Linked DNA regions of Homo sapiens. The protein of the gene in region 3 interacts with the protein of the main gene of each other region in a biochemical or structural test. Each region holds a gene or a part of one and is shown on either strand. Other genes may lie near its edges. The genes, in order: PTPN12, PTPRJ, TEC, GAB1, PTPRB, PTPRK and PTPRG.

The links.
Region 1: of the proteins of TEC (region 3) and PTPN12, one has a biochemical effect on the other in vitro, tested with the Homo sapiens proteins (one large-scale study listed by IntAct).
Region 2: of the proteins of TEC (region 3) and PTPRJ, one has a biochemical effect on the other in vitro, tested with the Homo sapiens proteins (one large-scale study listed by IntAct).
Region 4: the proteins of TEC (region 3) and GAB1 form a complex in vitro, tested with the Homo sapiens proteins (one large-scale study listed by BioGRID and IntAct).
Region 5: of the proteins of TEC (region 3) and PTPRB, one has a biochemical effect on the other in vitro, tested with the Homo sapiens proteins (one large-scale study listed by IntAct).
Region 6: of the proteins of TEC (region 3) and PTPRK, one has a biochemical effect on the other in vitro, tested with the Homo sapiens proteins (one large-scale study listed by IntAct).
Region 7: of the proteins of TEC (region 3) and PTPRG, one has a biochemical effect on the other in vitro, tested with the Homo sapiens proteins (one large-scale study listed by IntAct).

What each region holds. Positions count from the first base shown.
Region 1 is NC_000007.14:77,543,647-77,548,161, reverse strand, and holds part of PTPN12 (tyrosine-protein phosphatase non-receptor type 12), read right to left. Parts: intron 1-4,515. UniProt on the Homo sapiens protein: Dephosphorylates a range of proteins, and thereby regulates cellular signaling cascades. Dephosphorylates cellular tyrosine kinases, such as ERBB2 and PTK2B/PYK2, and thereby regulates signaling via ERBB2 and PTK2B/PYK2.
Region 2 is NC_000011.10:48,133,642-48,138,156, forward strand, and holds part of PTPRJ (receptor-type tyrosine-protein phosphatase eta isoform 1 precursor), read left to right. Parts: intron 1-2,397; coding exon 2,398-2,655; intron 2,656-3,361; coding exon 3,362-3,640; intron 3,641-4,515. UniProt on the Homo sapiens protein: Tyrosine phosphatase which dephosphorylates or contributes to the dephosphorylation of CTNND1, FLT3, PDGFRB, MET, KDR, LYN, SRC, MAPK1, MAPK3, EGFR, TJP1, OCLN, PIK3R1 and PIK3R2. Plays a role in cell adhesion, migration, proliferation and differentiation.
Region 3 is NC_000004.12:48,259,225-48,263,739, forward strand, and holds part of TEC (tyrosine-protein kinase Tec), read right to left. Parts: intron 1-4,515.
Region 4 is NC_000004.12:143,412,878-143,417,392, reverse strand, and holds part of GAB1 (GRB2-associated-binding protein 1), read right to left. Parts: intron 1,917-4,515; coding exon 1,622-1,916; intron 1-1,621. UniProt on the Homo sapiens protein: Adapter protein that plays a role in intracellular signaling cascades triggered by activated receptor-type kinases. Plays a role in FGFR1 signaling. Probably involved in signaling by the epidermal growth factor receptor (EGFR) and the insulin receptor (INSR).
Region 5 is NC_000012.12:70,556,872-70,561,386, reverse strand, and holds part of PTPRB (receptor-type tyrosine-protein phosphatase beta), read left to right. Parts: intron 1-390; exon of another isoform or gene 391-452; coding exon 453-716; exon of another isoform or gene 717-782; intron 783-1,762; coding exon 1,763-2,044; intron 2,045-3,308; exon of another isoform or gene 3,309-3,407; intron 3,408-4,515. UniProt on the Homo sapiens protein: Plays an important role in blood vessel remodeling and angiogenesis. Not necessary for the initial formation of blood vessels, but is essential for their maintenance and remodeling. Can induce dephosphorylation of TEK/TIE2, CDH5/VE-cadherin and KDR/VEGFR-2.
Region 6 is NC_000006.12:127,981,693-127,986,207, forward strand, and holds part of PTPRK (receptor-type tyrosine-protein phosphatase kappa isoform b precursor), read right to left. Parts: intron 4,184-4,515; coding exon 4,029-4,183; intron 1,686-4,028; coding exon 1,550-1,685; intron 1,289-1,549; coding exon 1,139-1,288; intron 1-1,138. UniProt on the Homo sapiens protein: Regulation of processes involving cell contact and adhesion such as growth control, tumor invasion, and metastasis. Negative regulator of EGFR signaling pathway. Forms complexes with beta-catenin and gamma-catenin/plakoglobin.
Region 7 is NC_000003.12:62,201,571-62,205,070, reverse strand, and holds part of PTPRG (receptor-type tyrosine-protein phosphatase gamma isoform 1 precursor), read right to left. Parts: intron 1,899-3,500; coding exon 1,121-1,898; intron 1-1,120.

The DNA.
Region 1 (4,515 bases), on a different chromosome or scaffold from region 3:
TAATCTAGTCATCTAAGAACTGTGTAAACAGAGAGAGTACTACTTTATATACCTGAGATAAAGTAAAATTACCAGATTTAAGAACATTTACCATGTGACAAGGACTCAATTTTTAAAAGGTCCTACTGTAAGATCAAACAACTATGCCATAATAATGGAACATCAAAACACTCCTCATCAAAACACTCAGGAACACAGGCCAATTTCATAATAGCATTTAAGCTGATATTCCTTTGGAAATCCTATTATTTGGGTACATAAGATTTTCTTATTTTATACACACTGACCCTGTTCTTCCCATCTAAAACCCACAGTTCTATCTCTGTTTATCTCCAAGTCTTTGAAAGTGTTGTTGCCTTTTACTCACCTAGTTCACCTGACAAACTCTTCCTTCAAAAACCAGCTCAAATGTAGCATCTTTGTGGAAACTGTCCATGATCTATTCAGACAGATTTAGGCTCTCCTGTCTCTCTGGCTTATATTCCGAATATACTTCCACTGGAGCAGTATGTCATCTCAAATTCCTTTGACTACCTTCTATATACTATGTTAGAAACTTTACATATATTATCTTGTTCTTTCCAGGTAGGTATTAGAGCCCCAACTTCTCTAGATAATCTGCTCAGAATCACAGCAGGGCCAGGATAGAAATTAATGACTGTATAGCTCCTAAACTCCTTATCTTTCCACTAGTCTAAGGGACCCAAACTCCTTGAGAAACTAAGAGCTATGAACTTTCTTCCCCCTAAAATGGGCTTACACACAAAAAATATTATATATAATTTAAAAGGGTTCAAAGATTCCCCTGAAGCCCACCCACTGCCCCCAGGAAAAGTCCCGCTGCTTCTCACAGGTCTGTTCAGTTAGTAAACTTCCTGAACAGAGTACTGCCATGTTTTCAACTGTCAATTCAAAAACACAGTACCTAGGGCATAGTGGGCACTCAGGTATCTCCATAAATACCTTCTGTATGAATGGATAAATGATAGAGACCATGGATGGATGACAGAGACCATGGATGGATGACAGAGACAAATCTTTGCATTCCTTCAGAGCCTATCAGGACAGTCACTCAAATGTTGTTAAAATAGCTTTTTAAATGCCGATTAGATATAAAAGTTATTACAGGAAATGTAGATATTAGCACACTTCCCAAAGCCTCTGAGATTATCATGGTCCACGATATGACTAGGCTTTGTGTCCCCACCAAATCTCATCTTGAATTATAATCCCTATGTAATTATAATCCCCCATGCTATTCTCCTGATAGTGAGTTCTCACAAGATCTGATGGTTTTACAAATGTTTGGTAGTTCCTCCCATGTTCATTCTCCTTCCTGCCACCTTGTGAAGAAGGTGCCTTGCTTCCCCTTCACCTTCCACCACAATCGTAAGTTTCCTGAGGCCTCCCCAGCCATGCTGAACTGTGAGTCAATTAAACCTCTTTCCTTTATAAATTACCCAGTCTCGGGCAGTTCTTCATAGCAGTGTGAAAATGGACTAATACAGTCCACACTCCACTTTCTCCAAAAAAAACTTTTAGGGAGCAACTACTGTTTGCTTCTTATATCTGCCATAGGCCAGCTACAGACCCTACAATACTGTACAAATGCAAACAAGATTTTTGTGTGATTTCAGAAGGAAGGAGATAATTGTCAAGGTTTGACTGCATGAATCTAAAGAAACTTAAATACTACAGGAAATATAAAATGCTGGAAGAGGAGTTCAACTCATATTTGGAAAAGACTAGTGGTTTAGAAATTGCATATCACCTGATTTACCTTATCAAGTTTTCAACTCAAATCTAATGAAAGGCTTTTTTTCTTGTGATATTAAAGATCAAACTTTACAAAGGAGAAAAAGTGCTTTAAGATTAACTGTGCTAAAATATTTATTCTAGAAGGTGAGAATTAATCACATTTTTGCTTCTGAGTTTTTGGTGAACATGGTGAAGTCATTTTAAATTTTTAGCTTTCTCATCTTCCAAGTACTGGTTTATAAAATAAAAGGGGAGACCATCCTGGCCAACATGGTGAAACCCCATCTCTACTAAAAATAAAAAAAGTAGCTGTGTGTGGTCACGGGCGCCCGTAATCCCAGCTACTCAGGAGACCGAGGCAGCAGAATTGCTTGAACCCAGGAGGCGGAGGTTGCAGTGAGCTGAGATGGTGCCACTGCACTCCAGCCTGGCAACAAAGCAAGACTTTGTCTCAAAAAAATAAAATAAAATAAAATAAAAGGGAAGCTTTCTGAGGGAAAAAGTATGTTCAACAGTACAACCACAGATAAGCAAGATTTCATTCATTTAGTAGGTATGCTCAAGGACCAGGAATAGCTTCCTTCAAAAAGAAGAGAGGATACATACCAGAGTATAGAAGTTTAACACTGGAAAGGTACTGTGACATTATGTTAAGAAGGTTCTGGAATGCCAGGCTAAGAAGTACAGACTTTATCCTATAGGCCTGTGATTCTCAACTAGGACCAAAGTTACAAAATTGGATGAAAACTTCCAGGTGAAGTATTTTTTTTTAATTATTAAAAAAAACTATATATATATATTTAAAATTGGAGGGAGCTGAGAAGGGAAAAATCAGGGAATCAAATCTCTCTGGAAAGAGAGACAGACATAATTACAGTTTGAAAAAGGAGCAGCACTTGGATCATATGTTTTGAATTGACTTTCAAAATACACATTTAAAATTTCCAATAATTGTAATGGTCATCAAAGGGAGCAATGAGTTTTTTTAACTTATATTTTTAATAATAAAAATTAAACCATGCTTCCAGTGCAGCCCACATCTCCTGATTGTACAACCAGTATGGTTTCCATTAGCCTACAGATGCTGCCACTTGAAAGTGAGTATGATGTGTTGAATGGACTGGATGAGGAAAGAAACTAGAGGCAAGTAGAGAACAACAGATATCACTTGTAATCACTCTCTAAATACCCACAAATTCACTATTTTTGAAGAGATACCGATGACATGATATCTTGATTTTATTAAGTCCAAAGCCAAAAGTTTAAAAGACATTTTATTAATACTCTAAGACAATGTCAACAAAGTATGATCCATTGGGTGTGGGATGCACAAATACAGAAGTTACCTTAAGAAACTGCAGCTAATAAAATCATATTTATTTAAAATATTTGAATTCAATGTAGCTCTTATCTTGTATTTTCTTTTTCAGTGGATACTGAAAATACAACGAGTTATGTGAGCACATCTGTGTAGGAGGGGAAGAAGCAGTTCTCATGATCGTCTAGAAGACAAACCCTTGGACCACTGAAGAATTCACCTGAAGAATAAATCTGTCTTACAGCATTAAGTTTGTCTACAATGTCTGCACATGCAATGGACATTAGTGCCTATTAAATGCCAAGCACTATATTAAGCAATGGGGATACAGGGATAATTAAGTCCCAGTCTCTAGCCTGGGAGGCGTTCAGTCTGGGGAAGACAGAAATGTAAATATTTATGAATCTAATGAACTCAGTGCTACAGAAACACAGAAGTATTTAACATATGAACAAAAAACCTACAGCCACCTAAATGTTAATGTCTTACTTTCAGTTTCATCCTTTAAAAATCCTTTTTCCAAGTTAAATATCAAATATTGATGGAAAAAAGTTAATATATTTTGAAAGTAAATAAAGTAAAACATTCTTGAGAATGCTTAAAGTAAATTTTTAGTTTACTGTCTCAGTGAACCATGTCTGGAGAGTTACTTAAAAGTTCACTTCCACTTCTGAAGTTAGTTGATGTAAATATGTTTAGGTGAATACTCATCAAAGGATGGATAAGAAAACCATAACTAAACCAGTGGCACTGGGTAAGCACTAAGATTAGCTCAAATGCAAGGACTGGAAAATATTTCCTATCACTCTAGCTTTGAAAGACAAATTAAGACACACAAAATCTTACAAGCTAACCACAAGAAGATACCACTTCACACCCAGTAGGATGCCTATAATCAAAAAGACAGCAACAAGTATCGGTGAAGATGTAGAGGAACTGGAACCCTCATATATTCCTGATTGGAATGTAATATGTGCAGCAGCTTTGGATAACAGTCTGGCAGTTCCGCAAAATGTTAAACATAGTGTTACCACGTGACTGAGCAATTCCACACTTAGATATATACCCAAGAGACCTGAAAATGTGTCCACACAGAAACTTGTACACAAATGTTCATAGCTGCATTATTCACATTAGCCAAAAAGTGGAAACAATTCAAATACCCATCAACACGATGAATGGATAAACAAAATGTGGTATCTATACAATAGAATATTATTCAGCCATAAAAAGGCCAAAAGTACTACGGATCAATACTATAACATGGATGAAACTTGAAATCATCATGTTAGGTGGAGTCAGTCACAAAACACCACATATTGTATGATTCCATTTATATAAAATGTCCAGAATACTTAAATCTATGGAAACAGAAGGTAGATTTGTGGTTGCCTGGGGCTTATGGGAAGGCGGGGAGTGACTGCTAATGGGTACAGAAA
Region 2 (4,515 bases), on a different chromosome or scaffold from region 3:
ACAGTTATTTGTACATCAGTGTTCATAGTAGTAGCATTGTTCACAGTAGCCAAAGGTGGACCCAAGATCCCATCAACAAATGAATGGATAGATAAAATGTGGTTCATCCATACAACAAAATACTATTCAGCCATAAGAAAGAAAGAAATTCTGATTTATGGTACAACATGGATGGATCTTGAGGACATTATGCTAAGTGAAGCCAGACACAGAAGGACAAATACTGGATGATTCCACTTACATGAGTACCTAGATTAGGCAACTTAATATTCTACAGAAATTAGAATAGAGGTTACCAGGGGCTGTTCAGAGGAGGGAGTGGGCATTATTGTTTAATGGCTACAGTTTATGCTGGGGATAATGACAGTGTTTTGGGTACAGGTAGTGGTGATAGTTACACAACATTGTGAATATTGATGATACCGAATTGTACACTGACAAATGGTTAAGATGATAAATATTATGGTATGTATGTTTTACCACAATAAAAATGAAAAGGAACAAATATCTCTATTTTTCTAACCCAACTGAATTCCTTTTCTCTCTGTGTCCACAGTCATACATTTTGCTTGTATACTGTAATTATTATACAAATACTTTTATTTTGTATTTGAATTTCTTTTTACTCAGTCTATACCACAACTTTCCCCTATAGTTAGCATGGCCTTCATATTTTTAGTGGCTAAAGAGTATTTCATCATGCAGCCAGATCACAGTGCCCACAGCCCTCCCCATGTTATTGAATATTTAGGTTGTTTCTAGGTTTTTATGTTTATAGACAAAGGCTGCCTTTCATGGGCTTTTGTCTGTGGAATCCCTTTGACATCAGGAATCTGCTGGTAGGAAACAAAGGCTCCTCCCAGTGGCTTCTCTGTAAGGAGAATCCACTTAAAATTAAAAAAAAAATTAATTTTGGAGTAGATAGTACGTAAACATGGCACAATTTTTTTTGTTTTTTGGACAAGGTGTTTGCAGTGAAAGCATTTCCCTTTTTTGTCCCCTACCTGCCCATTTCCTCTCCCTGGAGGTGACGTTTGTTGCCAGGTAAAGAGAGACAGGGTTGAAAGCCGCGGTAGAAAATAGGCCCAGCCTCCGCGGTTACTTCCGGGCCTCTATGTAGGCATCCCTGGTGCAGGTGGCTGAGTGGGCAGCGGGAGATGATCGGAGGATGGGCTCCTGTGGGAGATTCCATTTCTGACTCTGCTCTGAAGGTGCAGGGTGTGCCTGTTTTCTTCCCTTCCTCATCCGTCCTCAAATGCTGCAACTTAGTAAAGGTCAGCTCTCCATTTCAGTTTTCCTCTTTGGTATGTAAGGCTGTGTCACGGGAAGATGTTTCCTTCTGAGTGACTGATTTAAAAAACACAACAAAACAAAAAAACCTCTTTATTGAGATATAATATACATACCGAAAAGGGATGTATCCTCAGCACATAGCTTCATGAACTTTTACAAACTGAACACATCTTGTTACCAGCACCCATATAAAAAAACTGAATGTGATTTCCACTTCAGATGACCCCTTGAAGGGCTTTTTTTTTTTTTTTTTTTTTGAGATGGAGTTTCGCTCTTGTTGCCCAGGCTGGAGTGCGATGGCGCGATCTTGGCTCACTGCAACCTCTGCCTTCCGGGTTCAAGTGATTCTCCTGCCTCAGCCTCCCAAGTAGCTGGGACTACAGGCATGCACCACCACGCCCGGCTAATTTTGTACTTTTTTTGATAGAGACGGGGTTTCTCCATGCTGGTCAGGCTGGTCTCAAACTCCCGACTTCAGGTGATCCGCCTGCCTTGGCTGCCCAAAGTGCTGGGATTACAGGCGTGATCCACCGCGCCTGGCCTTTTTTTTTTTTTTTTTTTTTTTGAGACAGAGCCTCATTCTGTCGCCCAGGCTGGAGTGCAGTGGTGTGATATCGGCTCACTGCAACCTCTGCCTTCTGGGTTCAAGCGACTCTTGTGCCCCAGCCTCCCGAGTAGCTGGGATTACAGGCGTGTACCACCACACCCAACTAATTTTTGTATTTTTAGTAGAGATGGGTTTTCACCATGTTGGCCAGGCTAGTCTCGAACCTCTGACCTCAAGTGATCCATCTCGGCTTCCCAAAATGTTGGGATTACAGGCATGAGCCATTGCACCCAGCCTAAGGGCTCATTTTTAAGACAACAACAAAAAACTGGAGAACTGGTAAGATAAACTGGGAAGTTCATGTGCGTCACAGAAGAGCTGAAATTCTTGAGAGCACTGAGTGTGTGCATTTCTCAGCTCGATTTTGGAGTGTGCCTTTTGTGAACTCATTAGAAAGCGTAATGGCAAAAGAGCAGGTCCTCTCGACAGCACTTGGAGAGGAAGCTGGGCGTCATGATAGTAACAGTTTTCCCTTCTCCTTCCTTTCTTCTGAGCAGTTCCCAGTGCAGTGTTTGACATCCACGTGGTCTACGTCACCACCACGGAGATGTGGCTGGACTGGAAGAGCCCTGACGGTGCTTCCGAGTATGTCTACCATTTAGTCATAGAGTCCAAGCATGGCTCTAACCACACAAGCACGTATGACAAAGCGATTACTCTCCAGGGCCTGATTCCGGGCACCTTATATAACATCACCATCTCTCCAGAAGTGGACCACGTCTGGGGGGACCCCAACTCCACTGCACAGTACACACGTAAGTCTCTTAGGATGCCCTTCTAAGGAACAGCCTCTCTAACTGTCTCTTGGAGGAGGCACTGGTTAAATGATGGCCAGTGTGCTTCTGGGATCCAGGTTGACTCTGAAACTGCTGAAGTTGAAAACATTGGTCTCAGCAATGGTTCTGCTGTCACCATGGGGCACTGTTCTTCAAGCTATGTGAACTTAGAATTGTCATTAGAAGGAAGAAATGATTCCTTGGGAATGGTGACTGAAATGGTTCTAGTCATTCCTTGAGAATACAGAGTAGAGAAGGGTCACCTTGTCATGTTGGTATTGGAAGATACTGCCCAGATGAGGAGCTTCGCCTGCAACAGTTAGGGAGGTGTTTTGCGAATATTTGAATTAAATACATGGTAAAGATGTTAGTTTGTAATATGTTTTTAGTATATTTTTCTCCATCTATTAGATTTAAAAAACAGATTAGAAATTAAATGTTAAAAATATATTTGAAATAAACTTGAAGTATTAAAAGAAGCCTAAATTAAACTTCTTTTGAGACTTAATCTGTATAATTATTTTCTTGATGTGTTTTTGGGAAGTTTTCCATCTTTTGAGCCAGCAAATACTAGTTTTATTCATTCTTTCTAAAACGAGCCAGGCTATTTTTGGATATAGTAAATAGTCCTGGAATTCTACTTAATCTGTGCTTTTACATGAATTGCCTTTTTTTTAAAATCAAGGGCCCAGCAATGTGTCCAACATTGATGTAAGTACCAACACCACAGCAGCAACTTTAAGTTGGCAGAACTTTGATGACGCCTCTCCCACGTACTCCTACTGCCTTCTTATTGAGAAGGCTGGAAATTCCAGCAACGCAACACAAGTAGTCACGGACATTGGAATTACTGACGCTACAGTCACTGAATTAATACCTGGCTCATCATACACAGTGGAGATCTTTGCACAAGTAGGGGATGGGATCAAGTCACTGGAACCTGGCCGGAAGTCATTCTGTACAGGTGAGTGTAGCCCCAACTGCCTCTTGGACTCCTCCCTGAGTGGTGCTGACCTTGCAGGTCAGTCCTCCCAAGTCTGTAGTTTGTCTGGTTTTGTGTGATGTGCAGTGATGGACATTGAGCTTTCCGAGGCATCCTGTTAGCTTATCGGTGCTGTCTCGATGCCCTCATCATTTCTGCATTCAATAAATATTTATTGAGCATATACCATATGCCAGTCAAGTCCTTGCCTTCTTGGAACTTTTCGAAGGAGGAAGTGGGATGTTTACCTAGAGTGCTCAGGAAAGGCCTCAATGACAAGGTGACTTTTGAGCAAAGATCTGAATGAAGGGAAGGAGCCAGCCATGTGGATATCAGGGCATGAGAACATTACAGGCAGAGGCCTGTGCAGAGGGGCCTGTGCAGCATCACCACTGTATCTGGAGGCTGGAGGAAGAGCAGGAGGCAAGGGTGGGAGGAGTGGACCCGCAGGAACAGGAGGATATAGGTGGGAGGTGAGGCCTGAGTGGGGCTGAGCCAGGATGTGGATGATATCTGGCATTGGTTTGTCTTTTGTGCTGGAGAAGATGAAAAGTTTATTGAAATGATGCCCAGCCTTTGCATCCTTCTTGATCCTCACCTATCTCACAACTGAAAATGTGTGATAAAGAGAAGAGCCCTCTGTGTAATTGAGGATGCTTTCAGGGCAGCCCAGGAAAGGCTTTGCAGACAGTGGTGGGCACTTCTGCTCACAGTGCTGACTGTGGCACCTTTATCACTCAGCACCCGTGCACTACTCATTTTCTGCCCTTCTCGCTCCTACCTCTTCCCTTTTTAGCCCAGGCCATTCAGATATGTTCAGGCTGATTTGGAAGTGATGGTCTCATGGGATCAGCCTC
Region 3 (4,515 bases):
AAACCTGAAGCACAGGAAAATAATTCCAGTTAATAGTTAACTTAGAAATCCATGCAAGGTAATGAAACAATATGTATAAAAACCCCTGTGACTCATGTTTGCCTACGTAACAAACCTTCACATGTACCCCCAAACCTAAAATAAAAGAAAAAAGAAATCCACCCAAGGCTTTAAACATTAGACCATGATATCTAGAAAGATGACAAAGGGGCTGGGCGCAGTGGCTCATGCCTGTAATCCCAGCACTTTGGGAGGCTGAAGCTGGCAGATCACTTGAGGTCAGGAGTTCGAGACCAGCCTGGCCAACGTGGCAAAAGCTCACCTCTACTAAAAATACAAAAAATAGCCGGGCGTGGTGGCACATGCCTATAGTCCCAGTTATTCAGGAGGCTGAGGCATGAGAATCTCCTAAACCCAGGAGGTGAAGATTGCAGTGAGTCGAGATCATGCCACTGTACTCCAGCCAGGGTGACAAAGTGAGACTTTGTCTCAAAAAAAAAAAAAAAAGAAAGATGTCAAAAGAAAAATCTGAACAGGAGCTCACTCTGCTGTAGTTCTTTATCAAGAAACTACATTAATGCAAAATTCTCTAACATTGCTGGTTGCCTTGCACACCTTACTGGGCCATGATTACTCAAGCAGTAGAGAAATGGCACAATGGATAGGAAGGCTGGAGTTTCCTGAGGACATAAGATGCCTTCCCGGGTCACACAAAGTTTCATAAACTCTAGACCAGGTACTGAGGTCAAATGTCATTGCACAGTTACATAACAACTCTTCCATGTTTTGTTACTGATCCTTGGAAAGTTTTCCTATAGACATCCAATAAGATGAAATGAGGCTCTACACATTACCAACAAGAACACAGTCTCTGCAAATGACCTGTCAGGTTCTTCTAGTTTTATCTGACCTATAACTGGGTACATAACATGGCCTCAAGCATTCTGGCTCTTCTTGTCCTCACATAACAGAGACACTGTAATTCTAAAAGGTCAAAAAAGAGAAAAAATGGAAACTTCACATTGCTAGTGAGTTATTTTATGACCTTCTAAAACTGATGAATAAAAGCTAGAAATCAGTCAGGTGTGGTGGCTCACACCTGTAATCCTAGAACTTTGGGAGGCCGAGGTGGGAGAATCACTTGAGGCCAGGAGTTCAAGACCAACCTGGCCAACATAGCAAGGCCTCATCGCTGCTTAATTTTCGTTTCAATGAGCTGGATGCAGTCATATGCATCTGCAATCCTAGCTACTCAGGAGGCTGAAGCCAGAGGCTGAAGCTCAAACCTTCTATTTAAGCCCAGGAGTTCGAGGCTGCAGTAATCTATGGTGATGGCACCACTGTGCTCCAGCCTAAGCAACAGAGCAAGACTCTGTCTCTAAAACAAAAAAAAAGAAAAAAAAAATCTAAGTGTCCAACAACTGGGGAGTGGCTCAAAATACCACCGTATGCTAACATGACAGAATTACCCAAAGAAAATTATGCATGGACTAATTACAACGTCATAAAGTAACTACCTGTGTATAAATAAAGATTGTAGAATTTGGAGTTACATAAACAGTTGTAACATAATGCTCCTTAATTATTTTCTAGAACATTGCTAAAGATTTATTAAAAGTCAGCTGGTAATAGAGATGACTGGAAGGGGATTCACAAAGATTCTCTCTGGAATGGTTTTAGGGTTATTTTTAATTTCTTCTTTGTAAGCTTCAGTATTGTTTACATCTTCTAACAAGGAATATATAAAACTCTACAAAATGACAATTTTTTTTTACTGATGGCAAGGAGAGTCCAAGGAGCACACCAGGTGTCTGAGAACCTCGGTGGCACCCAAAGATCAAACTTTTGCCTGGGGGAAGCAAGATGGTGTGTCAACAGCTCTGAGCCTAAAAAATGTCTTCTGGCTAGGACTCCAGAACTTATGAACAAGAATTATTTCATGCAATGCTTCTATAACTGGTTTAAGTATGTGACAAAGACACTGACAATCCTTAAAAAAATTCAAAAGCATGTATACCTAAATTTACATGTCTGACAGCATTCAAACCCAGTTAAATTGTATTTCTGTTTCCCTGCATGGTTGAAGGATCAAGCATTTTTATCACCCAAGCAGGAAAATGAAGAAATCAACTGCCTTCTACAAATCAAAAATAACCCTAATAGTAAAAACTAACTTTGTTGCATGCTTAAATCATATTGGCAGAAAAATGAAACTTTAAATCACTCTTGTAAGAAAAAAAGCCAGTTTCATTTTTGGGGCAGTCATATGGAAATCCCACAAGTCGTGGTTGAAACATAATATTGAGGAGTATGTGAGGACATTAAGAGTTTCTAAGGAAATAGTAACAAAAGATATCATTGGAATTCCATGAAGGATAAGAGAAGAAAAATCAAAGGTTTTTCCTACTAAATCACATTATAATGTCACCAAAATTAAAAATAAAAGGAGTAGGATACTTGACAGGGAGTTTCACCTTGTAAGTATCTCATATAGTACATGACAAGTTAAAGTCTGTCGCTTTGATACTCTATTGTAAGCATTTCAAGGTTAAAAGCTTTAACCTTGAAAAACAAATGACATATAGTTACAAAAGGCAAAAGTATATATTGTAGAAATCCAAACAAAAGTGTTCCTCCTTTAGAAACATAAAACTGATGAGATAACATAATGAATACTTACTTCCCTCCCTCCTCCAAAAGCCATTCTTTGTAGCCATAAAAACTAAGATAATCATAACACTATGCTAAGAAAAAATATACAGATGGAAAATAATGATAATAATGTATGTTGTCCTTTCAAGAATGTTTTCAGTGAAGAATATTTCTAAATAATACAAGAAACAATACACTTGAGAAAACTTAAATTGAATGCTCTATATTTCAATCCATATATAGACAAGTGATGTGAAAGTCTAATCAAGAATTTAGAGAATTTAGATTGTTGAGTACAACTTGGGTAATTGTGACCAAATGTCTCTTTTTTTTTTTTTGAGACGGAGTCTTGCTCTGTTGCCCAGGCTGGAGTGCAGTGGTGCGATCTCAGCTAACTGCAACCTCTGCTACCTGAGTTCAAGAGATTCTCCTGCCTCAGCCTCCCGAGTAGCTGGAATTACAGGCACGTGCCACCAGGCCCACCTAATTTTTGTATTTTTAGTAAAGATGGGGTTTCACCATATTGGCCAGGCTGGTCTTGAACTCCTGACTTCAAGTGATCCACCTGCCTCAGCCTTCCAAAGTGCTAGGATTACAGCCATGAGCCACCACTCTTGGCCCAAATATCATTTTTTCTTAACTATAAAGTGTCCAAAATTGTCTGGAAAATTCATTCAGTATATTAAGTACTTGCTTGGTACTATGCTTTCCCTAGGAAAGAACTTCTGTGAAGACCCAGTACATTACAGAAAAACTATACTGCCTGGAAAAGGGAGGTTCCAATGACTTCAAAGACTTCGTTTAGAAAAGGGAAGGATGCTTGTGGAAGCACAGTGGGAGGAATGAGCTCTGCAGTATCCCTACTAGCCAAGCTTTTGTTCACAATGGTGCCTAGTGGTACCTGCTGAAAAAGCCTTTTTAACCATCTGTCATCCTCCAAAGATAAAGTAATTGTTGCACCCACTCCATTGTCACAATCGCCAGCACTCCTGTTTTCTGTATTGCCAATGCATAGCTGCCATCATGGGAAGATCGAGCTTTGCTTTTTCTGCACAGATAAGATGGCTTAGGAACAATTATCCTCCTACTTTTGTGGAAACTGACTCTTGTCATCATGTGTGTAACCATAAAGAATGTTGATGTTACAAAGCAACTGGGAGAGCATGCTGGAAGTTCACAGCCCATTAAGGGAGCCTGAGGAATGACTCAACTGATGAAATGACGTTGGGAAAGTCGTGATCATCCACAAACGGCAGGGTACATCAGCCCAGCCAGAAACAGGAACTTGGTTCACATTCCAAGGAGGGCACAAGTGGAAAGGGAAGTAAGGGTGCTGCTGCTGGTAAGGCAGTTGTGTGATAAACTGGCCTCCAGAAGGAAATAATGATAACTTCCATTGAGGCCACATGGCCATCAATGACACCAATCCCATCTTTCAGATTAAAATAATATTGGACTTAATAGAAGCTGCACTTCACTGAAAGGTAAAACATTCAGAGGTCAAGATGGCAGAAAGAGTCATCCTACACAAAGTGAATTCAAGAAACAGGAACAATAGGCCAGGCGGTGGCTCACACCTGTAATCTCAGCACTTTGGGAGGCCAAGGCAGGCAGATCACCTGAGGCCAGGAGTTCGAGGCCAGCCTGGCCAACATGGTGAAACCCTGTCTCTACTAAAAATACAAAAATTAGCTGGGTGTGGTGGCGTGCACCTGTAATCCCAGCTACTCGGGAGGCTGACGCAGGAGAATCACTTGAACCCAGGAGCTGAGATCATGCCACTGCACTCCAGTCTGGGTGACAGAGCGAGACTGTCTCCACCCCCGCCAAAAAAAAGAAAAGAAAGAAAGAAAGAAACAGGAA
Region 4 (4,515 bases), about 95 Mb from region 3:
TACCCGAGGTAGAATTCCACTTGTAAAATTCTTGAGCCCTCTAGTCACTCAGCTCTTTCCAGGATAGGCACCCCAAATCTCAGTCCCTCATTCAAGATTTGTAAGCAACTGTCCCTGGGCCTTTTTCACTCAGAGCCTTACTGCCCCAGTCAAGTAAAATTCGATTCCTTCTCTGGGTCTGTTCTTTCCTAAGTCCCTAAGCCTGGAGGGTTCTGCGTCCCTCCTTTCATTTACACAGAAATACTGTTTCTTTCAAAAGCCTACATTTTGCAATTTATTTTCCTTTCAGAAGCTTTCCTTCACTACCTCTTACCCAAACCTTGAGCCCCTCTTTCTTCTTCCATGTTCCTTGTAGGACCTGTGCTAAGTAATTCATTTGTTTGGTACTTGTTCATTGTGTTTTGTGACTGATTCTCACTTGCATTTCATAGGTAATGATAATTACCTTGGCTATTTCCTAACTTCATAACCTATTTATGCTTGAGGTTGCAATTTTTTGAATGTTTGCAATCAGACCTTGGCGATGACCTTGAGCAGTGGGATATAAATAACTCCCACATGCTTAGCGTTCCAATAATGGAACACTAGGCATAAATGGGATAATCTAATATAGTTTTTTGAGACGGCATCTTGCTCTGTCGCCCAGGCTGGAGTGGAATGGTGCAATTGTGGCTCACTGTAGCCTCCGCCTCCTGGGTTCAAGCGATTCTCCTGCCTCAGCCTCCTGGGTAGCTGGAACTACAGGCGTGTGCCACCATGCCTGGATAATTTTTGTATTTTTAGTAGAGATGGAATTTCACCATGTTGGCCAGGCTGGTCTTGAAGAACTCCTTACCTCAAGTGACCCATCTGCCTCAGTCTCCCAAAGTGCAGGGATTATAGGTGTGAGCCACTGTGCCCGGCCATAATCTAATATAGTTTTAAAATATATTTTTAAATAGCACCTAAAGAATTGGGTTGAGCTACATAAAAGTGCTTTTTTTTTGAGACGGAGTCTCGCTCTGTCGCCAAGGCTGGAGTGCAGTGGCGCGATCTCGGCTCACTGTAAGCTCCACCTCTCGGGTTCACACCATTCTCCTGCCTCAGCCTCTGGAGTAGCTGGGACCACAGGTGCCTGCCACCAAGCCCGGCTAATTTTTTTTTGTATTTTTAGTAGAGACAGGGTTTCACTGTGTTAGCCAGGATGGTCTTGATCTCCTGACCTCGTGATCCACCCGCCTCGGCCTCCCAGAGTGCTGGGATTGCAGGCATGAGCCACCGCGCCCGGCCAAATGTGCTATTTTTTAATAGGTGAAAAATAGTAAAATATCAACAGTGTTATATGGTTAAACTGAATATTTATATTGGAATTCAATAAATGTTCTTAAAATGTCTTCTTGTCACCTTTTACTTCAGGATATTTAAAAACTGCCCCAATATGTCTAAGTCTGTCGCTCTAAAACTGGTAAACAGCTTCTCCCCAAACTAATTAAAGGATTCAGTGCTTTTTCCAAATGTCAAGTTCCTATTATAAAAATAAAACATTATATTGTGTAACTAAAATAACAAAGAATTGTATGACATTTCTGGAAATGTAGCAGAAAAGAAGAATTCAAGTTGAATAGTAATATCTTGAACTTACCTTCTTCTGTTGGATTAAACCCACAGATGTCACAAATACAACGAACCCACTTATTCATCTCCTCCTCGCTGTCTGCTACCAAGTAGAAAATCCGGTCAATAGTGTTGATATCAAAAATGTAGCTGTTTTCAAACTCTTTTTTGTTAAATGTCAATCCAGCATCTACTTGTTGACATAAATTTAAATCAATAATACGAATAGGCTTCTTGGCATGATCATTTTTGTAATATTCCAAAACATCTGGATCTCCAGTTAAACGGCCACTGCGTAACACGAACCATCTCCTCTTCCATGCCTAGAAACAAAACAAAAATATCCATTCAGTATTAACTTGAGATAATGTTTTCAAGAAGATGCACATTTATCAAACTGATTTTACAAATGCATTGTTTAGAGAAAGTCACAATATGTGTGTGTTTGTGTGTGTGTTTTTACCACAGGATAATCTGCCACTCTGAAAAGCAACGTTTACTCATAACTCAATTAACTTAATAATGTATATATATATTCAGTATGTTCGATTAAATCTCCTACTATATAATATTGAGGCAATACATCAAGGAGGATTCAGTTTTTACTAAATATGAAAAAGTCATGGTTTCAACAAATGGTGTTAGGAAAACTAGAAATCCATACGCAAAAGAATGAAGCTGGACATTATGCTAAGTGAAATAAGCCAGTCATAAAAAGACAAATATTGTATGATTCCACTTATATGAGGTAGTTCAAGTAGTCAAATTCATACAGACAGAAAGCAGAATGGTATTTGTCAGGCCCTGCGGAGGGGGAGGGGTGGGAAATGGAGAGTTATTACAGTATTTAATGGGCCTAGAGTTTGAGTTGAAGAAGATCAAGTTCTGGAGATGATGGTGGCCATGGTTGCAATGGTGCTGTGAATGTATTAATACTTAATGCTAGTGAATTGTATATTAAAAATAGCTAAAATGATAAATTTTATGTTATGTATATTTTGCCACAATTTTTAAAAAAGCAACAGATTTTCATGCATTAATATTATGCCATAAAGAATACACATAAAGCTGCTTCTTCATAAGACTCCTACAGATTTTAAACACTTAAAAGATTTCTCTTTTTTTTAGGTGCGGTGGCAAGGAGTAGGGAGGGGGAAAGGTTTTGAAGCTTTTCTGGCTTCTTGACTGGGAAGCAATTGATTGTGTCTCTCTTTTAGCCACACAGCCTGTTGTTCAAAGACTATACGAGTAAGACCTGTATTCTTGAGTATGGGATTTAACTCTTTCTAATATTTCCCCTCCTCTTCCCAACAAACATACATGGGCAATCTGTAATACACTCACCACATACCCCCTCCACAAGTTCTGGTAAATTTTGAGTTTAATACTATACCTAGAGAAGCCTAAAAAATTATTTTACTATCACCCTCCCTAAATCTATGGTCACCAAATAATAAAAGCAGAACCAAATGACAAACAGCCTTCCTTATCAGCCTTTAACCCCAACATGTGTGCCTGGAAACAAACTTACACCTTACTCCTCTTTGAAATTCTTCCTCAGGGAGGCAGCTAGACAGAAAAGAGGCCTATTTTAGCAAGTCTCAGTCATTTACTAAGAAACATTCTCTGCTCCAGATTCAACATTCTAGGTAAGACTACCTCAAGAGGACACTCTGGGCCTGGGTGCAGTGGCTCATGCCTGTAATCCCAGCACATTGGGAGGCCGAGGTGGGCAGATCACCTGAGGTCAGGAGTTCGAGACCAGCCTGGCCAACATGGTGAAACCCCGTCTCTACTAAAAAATACAAAAATTAGCTGGGTGTGGTGGCAGGTTCCTGTAATCCCAGCTACTTAGGAGGCTGAGGCAGGAGAATCGCTTGAACCCGGAGTTGGCAGTTGCAGTGAGCTGAGATCACTGCGCTCCAGCCTGGACAGAAGAAGACTCCTCCTCAAAAAAAAAAAAAAAAAAAAAAAAGGGCAGCGGGGTGGTGGGGATGCTCTGGGAAGTGGAAGGACTCGAAAACCCCCAGTGGAATAAAACATTCCCTTTGCTACTTGTGGGAAGAAAAACAAGTATATAATTCATTATTCCTACCTTCAAAGAATTGACTAATTGTGGAAAAAAATATTTAACATACATGAAAATACTTGAGACTACAGCAACCCAGGCAAAATGTCTGCAGAGGTATTGCTACATGAACAAGCATTCCTCTACAGAAAAATTTAGGCAATCCTTTAACAAGAGGATGACCAGAGATCACAAAGGCCTAAAAACATTATATAGGTCTTTAATCATCAACATTTTAAATTAACTTCTCATTCTTCACGCAGCTCAAAGGAATAAGTATATAATTTGTGTCCAGGGAAGGCAGGGTAGAGTCCTATAGATGTTTTAGATAATATTGAAAAGTCATAAAGTGTTGGATTCACATGATTTTAGCACTGTTTTCTGGACTATAAAAATCCATTCATTGAATATGCATCTACTTACTGCAAAATAAATAAATATCATCTCTTAGTAAAATTATCCCTCTATGGATACTTCCCTCTCAAGCAGTAAGCTTTAAAAAGTAATGCAGAAGTAAAGCAAAAGAATATAAAATATGATGTTATTTATGCAGGGCCCTCAAGAAATCATATCATTCAGTAAGTGATTTCTCCAGATAGTGAAGCTTCATCTTTAAATACAGAAATGACTTTTTAAAACTTTATTGTCTTGCACGCAAATCTTTCTAAAATGCTTTACTACATACTTCACCAAACATAATCCATTCCCCAATGATTCAGACTAAGTATTGTAAGCATCCATTTCTATACTGCACTTCAGGAGACTCTCAGAGGCTGTTGCACTGTATAGAGTGTCATTTGCCCCTATACTATTAATAAATAGTACCATATTGCTATGCTTGTATAGTTCATCTT
Region 5 (4,515 bases), on a different chromosome or scaffold from region 3:
CAGATTTTATAAAAAAGAGCACAAGAGAACTGAGAACCTAAAGGAGGGTACAGAGGATGTAAAGAGACCCAGAGAGGGTTGTTATGGGATGGTGGCTGCAATGAGATAGGCCACACTGGGAGGAGCTGGAACCTCGTATATACATTTTCTGGGCCTTTTTCATAAGCTAAATGACAACGATTTATTCATCATTTATGAAGATTTCATTTTACATGCCTATCAGGGTCCATGTGGCAAGCATCTAGAAGTCACCACCTGGTTTGTTTTGTTTTAATTTATACCATATCTCTAGTCCATATGCCCTTAAAGTTAAATGGCCTGAAATGTAGGCAAGATCTGACTACAATATGTACGACTCACCCACATGCCCAACATAGCATATACTCTCACCTGTGGGCCAAAATGCCTGTGTTTCTGTTTTGTTCTCAGTAACAATTTTTCTTCTGTTTAAGTCCCAGCCTCTGTGAGTCATCTCAGGGGGTCCAATCGGAACACGACAGACAGCCTTTGGTTCAACTGGAGTCCAGCCTCTGGGGACTTTGACTTTTATGAGCTGATTCTCTATAATCCCAATGGCACAAAGAAGGAAAACTGGAAAGACAAGGACCTGACGGAGTGGCGGTTTCAAGGCCTTGTTCCTGGAAGGAAGTACGTGCTGTGGGTGGTAACTCACAGTGGAGATCTCAGCAATAAAGTCACAGCGGAGAGCAGAACAGGTGAGAAGCCCAGGTGCCAATGGCCAAGGGATGGTGGGAAGTAGCTTCCAGAGACACATTTTGATTCTGATTTTAATGACAAGAGATAAAGCCAATAATGATATACCCTGAGCTAGCCCCTGAATTTGGGAAGGGACTGTGGGACAACAGATAAAGGACAAGGCTTTGGTCCAAAAGAAATATGTCCTTAGCTTAGCTCTATGAATCTGGGCAAGTCATTGAGCATCTCTAGGCCTCAGTTTTCTTATCTGCAAAGTGGGAATAATCATATACATCATCACTGTGTGGCTATCACCAGTGCTTCCTAACTGTTTTTATGTCATGGGCACACACAGAGGTCTGTGTGCCACCCTGGAGTTAATCAACAAGGCTATCTGCAACTGAACATAATTGTCTGTGGACGTCAGCCCTGTACCCCAAAATCTGATGGAATTAATATCTTCACACACTTGTAACCCATTCAGGGCACACTCATGCTCCACAGCACCATGGTAAGGAAGATCTGGCTATGAATATTTAAGAAAAGGTATATGAGGCTGGGCACCGTGGCTCATGCCTATAATCCCAGTACTTTGGGAGGCCGAGGTGGGTGGATCACTTGAGGTCTGGAGTTCGAGACCAGCCTGGTCAACGAGAGGAAACCCTGTCTCTACTAAAAATACAACAATTAGCCAGGTGTAGTGGTGGGCACCTGTAATCCCAGCTACTTGGGAGGCTGAGGTGCCTGTAATCCCAGCTACCTGGGAAGCGGAGGTTGCAGTGAGCCAAGATCACTCCACTGCACTTCAGCCTGGGCAGCAAGAGCAAAACTCTGTCTCAAAAAAAAAAAAGTGAAAAAAAAAAAAAAAAAGTACATAAAATGCTCGAAGACAGTGCCTTACACATAATAAACACTATTAATGAAAGCTCCTGCTACTATATTATTATCATATTATCTCTTCCTACAAAGTACATTAAAAGTGTGTCTGATGTTGCTCAGCTATCTTATTTGTATATGTTATGGCATAGCTGTGATTATGTGATTTTTCACTTTCTCCTACATTCAGCTCCAAGTCCTCCCAGTCTTATGTCATTTGCTGACATTGCAAACACATCCTTGGCCATCACGTGGAAAGGGCCCCCAGACTGGACAGACTACAACGACTTTGAGCTGCAGTGGTTGCCCAGAGATGCACTTACTGTCTTCAACCCCTACAACAACAGAAAATCAGAAGGACGCATTGTGTATGGTCTTCGTCCAGGGAGATCCTATCAATTCAACGTCAAGACTGTCAGTGGTGATTCCTGGAAAACTTACAGCAAACCAATTTTTGGATCTGTGAGGACAAGTATGACATGTTTTGCTACTCTTATTTCTCAAATGGAGTAGAGGAAGTATATGTTCAACATCTTACTCAAATAGGGCTTGGATTAAATCCATATTTTTACATGGGATTGGTCTGGATTTGAATTCAGGCAGAAGTCTCTGTAGATTTGTTCGTTCATTCAACATTAACAACAAGGGACAATAAATCTCTCTCTGCCCTCATGGGGCTTACAATTAGGTAGGACGTACTATTTGTAAATAGACATTATATTTTGGGTGTGATGAGGGAAGTAAATGGTACTATGGAGACACTTGTTAGGTAATCTGACCCAATACAAGAGAACTTCTTGGAAAAGGAAACATCCAAATAGAAACCTAAAGCAAGAGATTTACCAGGTAGAGGTAGGGGAAGAAGTGGAGAATATTCCAGGTAGAGAGAATAAAATATTCCAAGATGAGAGAGGAGGGAGAGTACAAGATCTACCAATAGGGGAACAGAAAGAAGTTTATTTGGCCATAGCATAAAAGGTGAGGATTAAGGGAATCAGATAATAAAATATTTTGTATTCCATGGTAACTACTTTGAACTTTATTTTGAACCAACTGGAGCCACTCAATTTCAGCAGAGATATCATAATCATTATTTACACTTTAGAAAGTTACTCTGGGTACAGTGTAGAGAATAGATTGAAAGAGGCAAAACTAGAAGCAGAGGGATCATAGTTAGCATATACTGCTGTATGTCCCTGAGATAAAAATACTTCGACGACGAAGCATATACCAGTTTCTTCCCAAAGGCATTTTGGGATAGATACTATCACCCTCAAAGAAAGACAGGTATTCAGTGTAGGGACTTTAATCCAAATATTTGTGTTTCAATAATACCCAGTATAAGTAGCTTCTGGGATCAGATCAGATAGTTATTGGTTGTTGATAAAATACATAGTTGAAAGTTAGAAATTTAAGCAAGTAGTTGTTTTATTTTTTTAATAAGCATTAATACTATAACAAGTATAACTTTTATGCCACATTGTATCCAAAGAGCAGTTATTTGTGTGTCAAGAGAAATATGTGAAAAAGAACTAAGAGTTTTAGTTTATGGCGAGCTCAGGATGAGTTTTCCGTGGCTGACTGTGGGCTGTGTTCATGAAATCTGCTAAGCAGAACACCCTGCACTGGTTACCAAACCCAGGGCAGAACTCTAAACACTTCTGACCATTGCATCTGGTATTAGAGTAGCCAGGGAAACACAATGCAAACACTGGATGGAACAAAGCTTTACTTACATAGAGAGGAGACAGAGTAAGATCAGCCTCAACAGTATGCATCAGTCCCCCACAGCCAGCTGCAGTAGTTGCCCAGAGATGCACTTGCTATCTTCAACCCTGACAACAGAAAACAGAAGGGCGCATTGTCTGTGGTCTCTTCCAGCAGCCAATGGAGGGCAGTTGGCTAAGTGCACCCCTCTCGGGCCACAGTAGAAGGACCCTGTCCTGTCTCCTCAGAGGACAACTATAGCATTGGTGTTCGCCATCTACCATGTGACACACATGCTTAAGCAGAACAAAAGAGCATACATTGAGCTTGCAACAGGGAATGATACTCCCACACAAGGCAATGAGCCCAGCACAGGGTGTGTAGGCTCTCCATCTCTTGGTAAGAAAGTATCTTAAGCTCAAGGGCCATTTCTTACACAGCCAAATGGGGGTTGATAGACTATGCACATGAGACTGCCTTTCCCAACAGCCTCGCAGGTGCTCAGTTTAAGAGCTCATACAACTCTGTTAGAGGCTAGGCTTATAAGTCACAACTGGACTGTTGTATTCAGTCCCGGGTGCTAGAATTTAAGGGAGGCATTTACCAAAAGGGGGAGTGCCCAAGAGGACAAAAACTGCCATGAAAGAGAGACTCAGTGCTGTTTCATGAGGAATGATTATGGTGGAACTTGTTTTTGTTTTGTTATGTTTTGTTTTGTTTTCTTCGAGGCTTGTATTTATTAGGATCGGGTGAGGCTATGGGTAACAGAAAATCCAAAATAGCAGAAGTTTAAATAGAATAGAAGTTTATAATTTTCATGTAAAATCATTCCAGTACTCAATTTCTCACAAATATGCTTCAACCATAATGAATGATTTGCAGTTCTCAATTTTCTACCATCCCACTCCGGCACCTCCTCCTTTGGTACCTGGGTTTCTGGTTTTTCTCTACGTAGAATGCCTCTTTCGTGATACCTTGGCAGAGTGTCACCTCTGCCTTACAGCTTTTACTAACTCCTGCTGATCACTAATAGCCAGCAGCTAAAAGTTGTGTGTCACACCACATAGCACCTTCTCTCACCATTTCTTCTGGTATGTTTTCCTTTCTACCTTGTGTTATGGCTATTTTGGACTCATTTCCATTTGTAGAGGTTAGAGCTAACGTCTTATTTACCTCTGTACTGTTCATAATCCCCAGAAGAGCACCTGGCACATAGTAGGTACTTGTTTCTCTCAA
Region 6 (4,515 bases), on a different chromosome or scaffold from region 3:
TGGATCAACAATCAAAGAATTTGGTCTCTGCCCTTGATTTTATTTTCACCCACCTTCAGGGGTGTTTTAAGGGCAGTGAAAACATTTAGGGCTATTTTGAAATAACATGTACTACAAACTTCATTTATTATTATTATTACTATTATTATTTTTGAGACAGGGTCTTACTCTGTTGCCCAGGTTGGAGTGCAGTGGCAATATCTTGGCTCACCACAGCCTTCCAGGGTTAAGCAAACTTCCAGGGTCAAGCAATCCTCCCATCTCAACCTCCTGAGTAGCTGGGACTACAGGCATGCACCACCACACCCGGCTATTTTTTATATTTTTTGTAGAGATGAGGTTTTGCCATGTTGGCCAGGCTGGTCTTGAACTGCTGACCTCAAGATCTGCCTGCCTTGGCATCCCAAAGTGCTAGGATTATAGGTGTGAGCTGCCACTGAACCCAGACTCAGTTATAATTAATGTGCTTGATCTCATCACATTGTGAGTGACCCAGGTCAAAATCTGTATGACTGCATGAAAAAAAGGCTATAAATACACACTAAATACACACAAATCACCACTCATTTTGACTTGTTATTATTTCTTTTTTTTTTCTGAGACGGAGTCTCGCTCTGTTGCCCATGCTGGAGTGCAGTGGTGCAATCTCGGCTCACTGCAAGCTCCGCCTGCCAGGTTCACGCCATTCTCCTGCCTCAGCCTCCCGAGTAGCTGGGACTACAGGCACCCGCCACCATGCCTGGCTAATTTTTTTTGTCTTTTTAGTAGAGACGGGGTTTCACCGTGTTAGCCAGGATGGTCTCGATCTCCTGACCTCGTGATCCACCCGCCTCGGCCTCCCAAAGTGCTGGGATTGCAGGCATGAGCCACTGCGCCTGGCCTAATTTTTGACTTTTATGATACCTTTCCCCTTTGCTCTTCCCTAAGTCTGAACTTATTTGTCATTTTGGATATAGTAGATATAAATTCATCAATAGAAAAGTGACTATATAATATGTATAATGAAAGAGATACGTATTGTATTTAAAACAGGATCAAAGGTTATAAATTTGACTTGAAAGACCTTCCTTGAAAGGATTCCTAGCGCCCAGAACAAATTGTAGTAAGTCACAAAAGAGGTTTTAGAAATAGTTAATACCTGAAATTCATCCTTGAGATGTGAAGAGTTAGTCTGGGAGTCTATTCTAATCATATCAAAATATGCAGCTTTAAATTCACAGACAGGTATGGCAGTTTCTCCACATAAGCAGGCTTCTAAAATGGCATCATGAATAAAAATGTACTGTTCCTACCAAAAGAATGAAAAAGAAAATTTTGTACTAGTTTTAGTATCACTTTTCTGTCATCAAAGTTAGGAAATACAGAAAATTTTCTCTATATGGAAATATGAATTAAAACACCAATATTTTTCTATATGACTCAGCTAATATTGATTACACATGAAAAACATCTCTTTCGGTTGAGTAGAGTATATATGAGAGACATCTACTCTTTGTTTGCAAAAAAAATAAAAAATAAAAAAAAGTCCACTACAGGTAAATCTACATACCTCTGTCTGGACCATATTAATACGCCGAGATCTTAAGGCTTTGACACAATTGTAAATATCAACAACACCCTCTCTTTCAGCCATGTCTAGCATGATGTCAATCACAATGTAGCAGCCAGTTCGTCCAGCACCAGCACTGAAAAACAATTAAATTTAATGAATTGTAAGAAGCATGTTAGTCTTCATAACCTTAAATAAGGACTTTTTCCACTGTCAGATAGGTAGAATCAAATTGATTTAACAAACTGCAAGGCACAGCACTTGTCCCTGCTGTGTAAAAGCTTATTAATGTACAAATAGCTTCATGCAGAGTATCTGCTTTGGTATAAACTAAAGATTGGAACAAGAGTTCTAAATTATTTTCAAATTGAAAATAACACTGTTTAAGTTCCACACCTCTCTCACAATTTTCATTTTATGTAAATTTAATACACATAATTTCAAGTTCATAGAATTGATCAAGTGGCAGATTCACGCTTCAAAATTTAACTCAAGATTGAATATTTTTAGATTCATCTAGTTGTGTGTCCTCTGGCAACAATGTGAGAATGTTGGCTCACTCACTGTCTTCACCTCTTGTAAATACCAAGGCAAAAGAAAATTAATTCCCAAAACTTTAAACGGGAAATCTGAGGAGCCACGCTTCACAGGAAATGCAAATGGTGGGGGTGGGCAAGAGAATGACGGTTATCAAAGGGGAGGAGAGTAACAGTGTAAAGACTATTTGAATCATGATCTGAAGAGAAATGAAAATGAATTATTAGGTGTAGAATATGATTCCCAGCAAATCAAAAGGCTAGCCGCTATCTTACTGTATTTAATTCTAAAGTTAATTTTTAAAAATACTTTTAAAAAATTATATTTTAGTCTTTAATTGGCAAATAATAATGTATATATTCTTGGGTACATAGTGATATTTTAATACACATAATGTAGAGTGATCAGAAAAGGGTGATTGGCATATGCGTCCTCTCAAACATGTATCATTTATGTTGTGAACATTCAGTATCTTCCTTCTAGCTCTCTCAAACTAAACATTATCATTTACCAGACTCATCCTACAGTGGTACAGAACACTAAAATGTATTCCTCTATCTCACCATATTTTGTGTCCTTTAATTGTAATATACTGTGATTATTTTGCAGCTGGGGAATGTTTCTCCAATTTTATATATAGAAGTCAATGGGGAAAACAAAATAAGGATTTTTTGCGGGGAGTGGGGAATTCACTTTGTAGTCCAGAGATGCTTCAGTGTAGGTGGAAAATGACACTTCTGTTTCAAGAGAGTATCTGAGAATCTTGGAGCATTTCTGAAGCAAGCAATTCATAAGAAAGTAAACCTCTCTGATAAATCAAGAAATTCTTAAGTTGAAAACCTATTTATCTCATTTTCTAAGTGCTTAGATAGGCTAGTAACATTATTTCCTTGTTATTCAGATTTGGTCACTTCTCTTAAACTCACTGTTCTTTTAGAAATTTAAGCAAAAGATATTGTGGCTATCTCTATTTATCTTTGTCCCCTACCATCTTCTCAATCACTGTTCCCAGAGTTGGAGACAGGAATGTAATTTAAGAGTACATCAGATTTCATGAGGAGGATTGAAAGGAAGTTTTTTTTGTTTTCAGGGTACATAGTATCTGATCCTATGGGACGTTTTACCTTTACTTCATTCTCTGCTTTTTTTCCCCTCTTTTATACATGGTTATTTAAATCCTGAATAGGTTGGATTTTCAGAAAGCAAAAAATGCTTAGGTACAACCTATTATGTAGCTTGGAGGGAAGAGCGTATGAGAATGGTGTGCAGCATCATTTAGGAAACGCTTTTCAGATTCAGTACTTATTTTTCTGGTCACACCTCAAAATGAGGCCATGTAATTTGCTTTTAGTATCTCTAAATGCTTGTTTTAAGAGAAGTTTCTAATCAGAAGAAAGTCTGGATATAATGCTCGTGTTTTTTGGCATATATTTGCTGAATCTCACTGATGCAGTTTTCAAGGTCCTCTAATGTGAATTCTTTAAAAAAAATTTTTAAATAGCTGTTTTGCAGCACAAATCCTTGCAATTTAGGCCATTTAGTAACTCTGTATGTCTGAAATTTAGTTTTAAAGCTGGAATTCTATTGGGAATTTTCTAGATTGGCAAGAAATGTCTATTTCAACCTAGCATTCTATACAATATGGGATTTGCAAAAGTGATAAAAACAAAAAACACAGATGTTGCCATTAAAAGGCAGAGTTTCTATACTTTAAATTGTGGATAACACTACACGCATTAGGATGAATGTATGTATTTCTTAAGTTCCTGTTTTATAGACTACTTACAGCCAACTTTTATTTTATTGCTGTTTTACTTTATCTATAATACAAGCAAGCTGGAACTTCGTAAGCACACATTAGTTTTTGTGCTCAAAAGCCTTGTCTTGATACTCTAAAAAAAGCTGATTGCATACAGTCAATACCATTTGGACCACCACTTACCTGCAATGTACAACGATGGGGCCAGCACTGGGAGGGTTTGATAACTTGACTCGCCGGATAAAGGAAAGCAGCCCTGTAGCATGGTAGGGCACTCCATGGTCAGGCCAGCCCGTGAAATGGAACTGTTTAACTTCACGGATTTCATTGTACCCCCTCTGTGCAAAGATGGAAAGAAATGTTTTCAAAAGCCATTTTAATGGCCAAAATAAAGCCATTAAACACAATTATGGGTACAGACCCAACTGACAATGATAACAATAAAACCTTTACGAAAGACTATGCCTTTTCTTAAAAAAAAAATATAATAAAATGAAGGCCTAACATGGACTAGGAGCTTACCTTTATTGTCAGACAACTGCCAAAGAAAGAAAATTATAAGTCTTGCTCAGTTCTAAAAGTCTGGGTAAATTTTATTTACTTTGACAGCTTGTTTCTTGCTGGGAGTGACAACACATTAAATTATTAGGGGAAAAGAAGGAAATGGGAA
Region 7 (3,500 bases), on a different chromosome or scaffold from region 3:
TAGATGAATTTTAATGTTTACAAGTGCAAAAGCAAATAAATATTTACCAGTTGCTTTTTTTTTGCACTCTTATAACTCCACAACAGCTTAGACGCAAAAAAAATTGTTGCTAAACATCTTGTAGTCTGGCAAAATGAAGAATTTCTTATTAAGAAAAGCCCTCACAACAATAACAACTCCTCATGCTTATGGCTCCCTTGCAGAAACTATCAGGATGGTTCATTAAGATTTGAGCATATGATAGAGCAACAAAATTGCCACCAGGAGATGAGGATCTCATGCCCTGGCCTCACTGTCTATACACTGGCTCATTCCCACAGCAATGGGAGCTCTGGGAGAGAGGGCCGTATTTCTTGGGCAAGGACCATGGGCCAATACCAGCTCTCCCCAGGCTGAAGCCTTTCATTCTGTAGGTTTCCATGAACAAGCCACTTCTCCAGAGTGGCCTTTCTTAATTAAGGTAGGTCCCTATCCTCTCCATAATTCTCTTGGACAGCATCCTGTTTATTTCCTCTATTACCATTTCACAATCGAAAACTTCAGTTAGTTAGTTTTCCAGCTTGCCAGTTAACCATCTAGCTTGCCGACTAACCACCATCTAGCTTGCTGGCTTTCTAACGTTCCTGCTACCTAACTTCTGGGCATGCGCTCCAGCTAGCTACTGTCTTGTCATCTGTCTGCCTTCCCCTTTAAACTTTTTAGGCAGGGACTAGGATCCCCTGGGACAGCACCCTGCCCAGTCCCTGGCACCAAACTAGCCATTTGTAGATACATTATATAATGAATATGGAATGAAATCTTAATAAATAAACTTCTTAAGATCGATGGCTTTTTTTATTCATGTATATCATTGCCTGGTTGAAGTCCCTGGAGTTATTCCGAGGCAAGAAAACAAATATCAAAGAAAGACTTACTCCAGCGTAAGAGAGTAGGCTTTTGGAGTAAAACAGGGACACACACATACACATTTCACATGTGTGCACCTTTTCTATGACAGACATATATGATTCTAAGAATATTAAGTACCTTCTGAAGCTTCACCTTCTGCTCCCAATTTTTTGAAAAAGGGTACGACTATTCACAGGAGCAGGAACCCTCGAAGAAGACCTGCACCACTTACCTGGATTAACAGTGATAAATCTGCTGTCTTCAGAAAATCGGTCCCCGCGGGACATAGGCTTTTTAGATGGCATTTCGGGCCTCTTGGGATCACTCCCTGCATACTGCTCCTCTGTGGCGGTGGGGGGCACTTGGGTGGAGGTGACCATGTCGGGGTCCAGGCCTGGGCCGGCATCCCTCCTTCCGCCCGTCTGGTCTGTGGGGACGGCAGTGTGATCCTGCTCATGCCCAGGTATAGTCTGATGCCCTCCCTCGGCAGTCCTGTTAGGAGACGAGGGTGTGGGGCTGGGCTCCGTCTGATTCCGCTCCTCGGCAGCGTGGGTCACCCCACTCTTCTCCTTCTTTTCGGAGTCCTTCTCTCCATCCTCCTCGTGCTCCCGCTCCCCATCCTCACTCTCGCTTTTCTCATCCTTCTCTCCTTCCTCGGTGCCCTCGCCGTCCTTGGTTGGTGACGAATCACCATCGGGCCCTGGAGAAGCCAAGGCCTCTGTGGTGGCTAGGACTGGCCTAGCCGCCTGCTTGCTGGCTGAGGCGGCCGTCGGGAGGCGCGTGGGCCACACAGTGCTGGGGAAAGAGGAGATGCCACCACCGCCGAACCCCAGGCCGGCGAGCAGCGTGCTGGTGACCACCGAGGCCACTGTGGCCTGGCTGCCACTGGAGGAGGGGCCCATCCCAGTTGCCATGGAAACAAATGAGAATGGGATGCCAGAGGACGTCCAGGTAGAAGACCCCGAGCTGATGGGGGCCATGTCGGCTGAAGAGGCAGGAGACGCTGTGGGCTGGAAAGGGTCACCCGGCAAGGGTGGAAAAGAGGCAGAAGAAGAAAAAGCAGAGAAGCATCAGTAATTGAGATTGGGAATGAGGCCCTGGTTGTCACCCTCTGAGGATTTTACTCATCTATGCTATGGAGTTTTCCAATGTATGGCATAAAGTTGACATTAGGTGGTCCATGGGTGATCAACTTTTATTTTTAATGGTTTTATAATTGTGAACATGTTAAAATGCATAACTAGTCGATCAAACTCAGCTTTTCACTGATATTACCCAAGATGAGGCTAGGTGCCAAAAAAACTAAGTAGTGTTAAAGCTGACTTACACAACAAAGAAGTCATGAACTGGAAAAATCAGATGGTCATCTGTTCTTGGGGTGATGAGAGGCAGAAGACCTTTGATTTTATGTATATCACTGACACTTGAGTAGATACTCAGCTCTAGGTCTGGAAAGATACTGGGTGATCCAGTCCAACCCCACTGTCTCCCAGTGAGGAAGTGGGTGGACAAGGAGGGAAAGCAGCCTGCCCAGGTCTGCAATGACAGGGTCAGAGGCAGGAGCCATGCTCTGCACTGCATGCTCTGGGCACTGGTTTACATCTCTGCATCTCCATGTTGGGCACTGCAGAGTCACTGTACCTTGCAGTTTCTAAGTTGATCCGTGGGAAAATCTGAGCCCATACAGATGACAACAACATCAACAACAATAACAAGAATTCCAATTAACAAATGCCAACCGTGTGCCAGGGCTTTCCATGCTACTCTGGAGGCAGGCATGATCATCACCCCATTTTGCAGGTGAGGAAACTCAGACACAGAGATGTTAAAGAGCTTACACAAGGTACATGACCTGGAAGGCACAAATGCAGGGCTGCCTGGGTCTAAGACTCGGCTTGTTCTTACCACCATACTAAACTGGGGCTCAAGTCTGGGGGTTTTACTCACATAAGGTATCTTAGGAAAACAAGAAGTGCTGCTCTGAGCTATTAGTCTAATTTTAGCTTGCCTGCTGGGTGATGCTGGACACATTACTTTAACTCACTGAGCCTCGGTTTCCTCATCTGTAAAACGGGAACAACAGTAACACTGACCTTGTGGGCTGCCTGGAGAAGTAAATAAAATAATCTGTGCCTGAAACCCAGGAAGAGCATAGTGAATTTTAGGCTATTATTATTATCACCACTGCTGTGATTAGTATTTTAATTATTCATTATACCAACCAGGAATGGGGAAACTAAGATATTAATTCTGGTTCCAGAAATTTTCAGATCCATATAACTTTACGCAAATGACAACCTCTGAATTTGAGTATATGTCAAATGAAAGGGTTGGAACAGATTTAACTCCTTTGTGGTCCTGCATCGTCTGATCCCACAAATCATAACTAAAAATATGAAGAATTTTTACCTTCACAAAATTATATAATATAACCACCTAACACTGTTGCACAGCTTGTGTTCATAAGGTACTGAATTATAAAAAGTGAATAATGTAATTTTTTCTCTACTATAACCGCTTTACACTGAGCAGTTTAACAACATTATACTGCCACTTCGTGGTGACAGTTTTAACTGCAAGCAAATTAACAACCAGCCACGACAAAGCAATTT